Regions from separate parts of the Homo sapiens genome. Here region 2 is linked to region 1. Evidence: fine-mapped expression QTL. Tissue or cell type: whole blood. Region 1 holds a variant in brackets; the other region holds the start of a gene. All regions are shown on one strand. Distances are between the middles of the regions.

Region 1 (2,758 bases):
GTCTTTATTGTGCTCTTCCAAACCCCTCTGCCCCCTGTCTTCCTGGGCCTTTGAACCACCACTCCAGGCCCACCTGAGCCTCCAAGTCTGGGCTCAGGGCCCCTTCTCTGTGCTCTCCCATGCTGCCCAGGCATCCCTGTTTTGGCTCCCCTGGTGCTGGGCCTCCACTAGACTTCACACTCAGTAGGGCCCAGGAGGATCTACAGCACAGTCTGCATGGAATATAAACTAGACAGATGGGCTGGGCACTGTGGCTCATACCTGTAATCCCAGCACTTTGGGAGGCCGAGGTGGGTGGATCACCTGAGGCCAGGAGGTTGAGAGCAGCCTGGCCAACACAGCAAAATCCTGTCTCTACTGAAAATACAAAAAAAAAAAAAAAAAATTAGCTGGGCATGGTGGGCGCCTGTAATCCCAGCTAATCAGGAGGCTGAGGCAGGAGAATTGCTTGAACCCAGGGGGCGGAGGCTGCAGTGAACTGGGATCGCGCCATTGCACTCCAGCCTGGGCAACAGGAGCGAAACTCCGTCTTGGAAAAAAAAAAAAAAGCTAGACAGATGATGGCAAGCTCCGCTGGCTGGCTTCCCAGTGCTTACATGGTGGCCATTTCTCTATTGCTCTTTGGGGACTGGGTTCTAGTGTTTGTGTTGCCAAATGCAGCACTTTTTGTTGTACACTTTACTTCAACATTGATTAAATTAAATGTCTCGGGATTTCAAGGGAATTGGGATTTGACCCCTTTTCTCAAAGGACTTGTACACTGGGTGCATAATGTCTGTTCATTCAATGAACGTTTATTTACTGAGCACCTTTGCAGAGCCAGGCACGGAAGGTGGCAGAATTAAAGCAGCCAGTCACAGGGATTCAGAGAAAGTCTGTGGAGCTTAGAGGAACTTCCGTGGCTTTTCATCTTCTCATGCCTTGGTTTAAAGTACAGGAGAAAGATTATAGTTCTCCTTGCCAGAGACGCCTCTTTCCCCTGATCATGGATGTTTCCTTAGAAACCAACTTGCGTGTCCCCCACTTTCATGGGCTTTGAAGCTGGAGTCTTGTGTAAACATCACTTCACGGGCATGTGAGAAACAAGCCTTTCCTGTCCCCGCCGTGAGCCTCCAGCTTTCTCTAAGT[C/T]GACTTCTCAAGGGGGTACTGCTGTTTCTTTTAATATCAAAAAACCCGTTTGAACATTACATGGTTTTCTCACGGTAACACTTCAGTCAGCTGCATACAGGGTCATTTTGGTAAATAAGTGGAAAATCAGAGAAGTATTGCTGGACTTGAAGACAAGTCTGTGCAGTTGAGAGCAGCAGAGCTTTTGAATCAAGACATCATGGGAGGTTGAGGCAGGTGAATCGCTTGAACCCGGGAGGGGGAGGTTGCAGTGAGCCGAGACTGCGCCACCGGCGACAGTGCGAGACTCCGTCTCAAAAAAAAAAGACACTTACGCTGTGTCCTAAATGTTGAAGGCGGTTTTGAGGGGTGAGGTGCTGGAGAGTTGAAGCTACAAACAGAAACCTATAAACTCATTGTGTTGGATGTCATACTGTCCTGCCTTACGCCACATACCCTCATGGTTAGGAGCTCTGCTCAGAAACTGGACTGCCTGGGTTCAAATCCTGTCTTTGCTACTCTACGTTGGGGCATGTTCCAGTTTTTCTTTCATCTGTGAGATCAGGATGATAACATCCCTTAGATGGTGGTTGTGAAGATAAAGCGAACTATTGCCTGGGCAGCGTTTATAGTGGTGCCTGACATACAGTAAGTGCTTAATAAACGTTAGCTGTTGTAATTATACCCCTTTATCAGCTTCACACTGGACTGGTCACCTAAGCTGTCACCAGACGTCCCGCACCACTGGTGGTCCACAATGTTTCTGTTCTGTTGTTTCAAACCCCTTAGCTCATTTTGCTTCTCTGACCATCTTATTCCAGTCCTCTCCTCTTTCACGATGTTCTCTGGTCTGGAATAGGCGTCTATTTGGAGTCTGCCGCTCCTTACTCAGTGAACCCTCTCTCTCTATTCTGAAGCCCTCTTGGTGGGATGGGGGCAGATATTCCTGTACTCACAGCTAACCATGGGAAAACTCTAGGGTAATTTTTCATTTGAGCTTGTGTTTATAAACCTCTAAAACCTCATAGGACCCTTGCCAGTGGGCCAATCTGTGAGTTCTCCATCTATGTAAAGAAAAAAAAAAACTGGTGGTAAAATAGACATAACATAAAATTGACCATTTTAACCATTTTTAGGTGTACAGCTCAGTGGTATACAGTACATCTACATTACGGTGGAACCATCTCCACTGTGCAGCTCCAGAACTTTCTCATCTTCCCCAATTGAAACGCTGTAGCCATTCAACACTAATTCTCCAGCCCCCGGCAACCACCATGCTCCCTCCCTCCCTCCCTCCCTCCCTTCCTTCCTTCCTTCTTTCCTTTCTTCCTTCCTTCCTTTCTTCTTTTCTTTCTTTTTTTTGAGACAGAGTTTCGGAGTTTAGCTCTTGTTGCCCAGGCTGGAGTAAAATGGCACAATCTTGGCTCACCGCAACGTCCGCCTCCTGGGTTCAAGCGATTCTCCTGCCTCAGCCTCCCAAGTAGCTGGGATTACAGGCATGTGCTACCCCGCCTGCTAATTTTGTATTTTTAGTAGAGATGGGGTTTCTCCATGTTGGTCAGGCTGGTCTCGAACTCCTGACCGCAGGTGATCCACCCACCTCGGCCTCCCAAAGTGCTGGGATTACAGGCGTGAGCCACCATGCCTGGCT
Region 2 (2,617 bases), 220 kb before region 1:
CGGAAGGGGTTCTCCGAAGTGGGCACAGGGGTGATGAGGGGATCCTCACAGGCGTGGGCATCACAGTAAGTCATCAGGTCTGCTGCTGCCTTGGACACCTGGGACACAGCCAGGAAGGGTATTGTTAGCCAGGACCTCTGAAGGGGACTGCAGCCTCCCTCCCCAAATGGGTTCTCTTTTGCCATCTCCAGGGCTCCTTACGACTTGTCTTCTCCCTCATCCCCCCCAGAGGCCTGGGGACAGCTCTCTCTACAGAGCCCCAGACTCCTCCCCTGACCTCAGGGAGTGAAGGAAAGAACGCATCTCTTATCTTGAGCTTTGGGAACCTGCAGCACAGCACAGCCTGGCCAACTAATGGGAGCCAGCCAGGGTCCCACCTACCTTTATCCGACACAAGCTGGCTTCAATCTTAAGCTGTTCCACCATCTTGCGTGCTTGCCCAATACTCATAGTGCTGTTCACCGGGGTCTCACCTTTCATCCTGGAAAAAAGAGGGACCTCTCAGAGCACAGTCTCAGCTGGAGGCCCCCCTCCATGCTCACTCCACACCAACCTTTACAAGGCTGTGGTCATACCCCAATATTTTGTTCCCCTCCTATCCTCCTCCTCCTCCTCCAGTGGACTGTCTCATCCCTGTATTCCTCATGGAAAAAAATAGGGTGGGATGAGGTGCTCCCCAAACTCCCTCATGGCCTGGGCCACAGATCATTAAACCTTACACAAATGATTTAAGGCTTTTCAGCCCTTCAAACCATGTGTGTTCCCAGCTCTGAAGACCTCAACCAACCCTGATGAGGAGGGCACATCACCCCTGTCTGCTCCAGTGAGCCCCAACAGGAGAAAAACAGGCCATTACTTACCTGAAGCCACAAGCGGCAGTAGCAGCCCTGGGTGTAGGGTCAGTGGAGGGTACCAAAACCTTCTGCCTGAAATGGGTGCCCCACCCAGTAGGGAGTTGCAGCTGAAAGTATCTGATGCAGAAGCAGTGACTATACGAAAGGAGGCCCCTGGGGAGGGCCAGGCCAGAGGTCTGGTCTCAGTTTCTGCAGCTCAAGCACTGTCTGGATGGCTGGTACCTGAAGGATGAAGGATGCTAGAAGGAGCTGCTCAGATCCTGGAGCATACCAACTGCCTGGCCAGTGGGGGAGCCTAGCTGCCTGCATCCCTGCGCACACCCCCACTGTCGCTAGTTCACTGCCTGCCCCTCCCCCATTGCAGGCATCCTGACTCTGGGCTAGAGACCTCCCCAACAGAGCTGAGGCCAAGGCCGACTCCCCCTCTCAAATGGCGTGGTCTGGGCCTATGACGGCCCCTGCAGTGGAGTCTGTACTGGCTGCGGGGGACCCTGCTCATTTGAAAATCTGACATCAGCTGGGCAGTCGCCCCCCTCCTCCTTTCCTCCCTCTACTCTGACACAGCACTTAGCACCTGAATCTTCGTTTCTCTCCCAGGGACCCTCCATTTTCCATATCCAGGAAAATGTGATGCGCCACAGGTATCAGCGTCTGGATCGCCACTTCACGTTTTAGCCACAAGTGACTCAGTGGAAGATCCAGAGTCAACAGAGGCTCGTCAGGAAGATGTCTACAGAAAAGGTAGACCAAAAGGAGGAAGCTGGGGAAAAAGAGGTGTGCGGAGACCAGATCAAAGGACCGGACAAAGAGGAGGTAGGGGCCCTTGTGGGGACAGTCAGCAGAAATATACTGGAAATAGGTGGGCTGGCGTGAAGGGGGCGGGGGGATGGATTGGTTTTAAGAATTTCATTCATTTTGAATAGATTACTTCCCACGCCCGCAGCAGTGTGCAAAGATGTACACAACACTGGCCTTGCCTCTGAAGGACTTTATCTGGGGTGATTAGACGTCTACAAAATAGAAGACTGCCAAAAGCTAGTCTAGATAATGTGCTGTGGGGACTCTGAGGGAGAGTGTATCCAGTTAGGGTCAGAGGAGGTCCACAATGCTACCACGCTGGGAACAGGGCACTAATCTGCCTGCGCAACAACGCAAGAGGCCCAGGTTGCCGCAAACTGCAACATGCTCTAGGCGAATGCCCCCGCCTTAGATGCCTACAGGTCCTAGGAGCTGTGGGCGATAAAAATCAGCGCCAGCTGGATGACCGCCTCACTCGGCCGCTTCGCGGGTGAAATGGCCTGTGGTGAAGGTGTGCACGGAGGGCTGTGATTGCAGTCTCAAGGGAGAGCCGAGCGGAGGCTGCAGTCAGCGCATCCCCTGGGGCACATCTTGGGGCCTGCAGGGAGGCAGGCGTCTTTCCCCTTTGGTCACGGTAACCGGAGGGAAACCTGCCGCAGAGAGAGCCAGTGGCGAGCGCAAGGAGACAGCGACCTCGCAGCTCGGGAAGGCTCCGCCCCGTCCCGCCCCGCCCCGCCGTGCTGGACCCCGCCCTGGGCTGAAGCCCCGCCTCCCACGGCTACAAAAGCGGCCGGCGGAGAGGGGCGGGACTTCCCCGGGAGCCGGAAGTCCCGTCTCACGGTTGCCCTGGCAGCGCGCGAGGCTGGTGAGTCGGCAGCCCTGTGGCAGCCGGCGGGCTGGTTTCCATGGTTGCACGATTAGGTAGGGGCTCCGGGCGCTTTGCCCACCCCCGAGCTGGAGGGGAC

The links. PIP is the estimated chance that this variant, and not a neighbour inherited with it, causes the effect.
Region 2: BSCL2 starts here. The variant in region 1 is fine-mapped to the expression of BSCL2 in whole blood (TOPMed, PIP above 0.99).

Annotation. Positions count from the first base shown.
Region 1 is chr11:62,486,193-62,488,950 of GRCh38, reverse strand. It overlaps a transcript of AHNAK not described here. Among named protein-coding and RNA genes, the nearest start is that of AHNAK, 59 kb to the left of the region's middle. The variant C/T (reference allele first, on the strand shown) is at 1,129.
Region 2 is chr11:62,706,159-62,708,775 of GRCh38, reverse strand. BSCL2 (BSCL2 lipid droplet biogenesis associated, seipin) reads left to right here and starts at 1,352. Exons shown (of 11, transcript NM_001122955.4): 1 at 1,352-1,667. The coding sequence starts at 1,581. It overlaps GNG3 (G protein subunit gamma 3), which reads right to left and starts at 1,100. Exons shown (of 3, transcript NM_012202.5): 1 at 861-1,100; 2 at 382-481; 3 at 1-98. The coding sequence starts at 480. It overlaps HNRNPUL2-BSCL2 (HNRNPUL2-BSCL2 readthrough (NMD candidate)), which reads left to right. Exons shown (of 24, transcript NR_037946.1): 14 at 1,452-1,667. RefSeq lists enhancers at 1-648, 1,968-2,617 and a silencer at 2,309-2,617.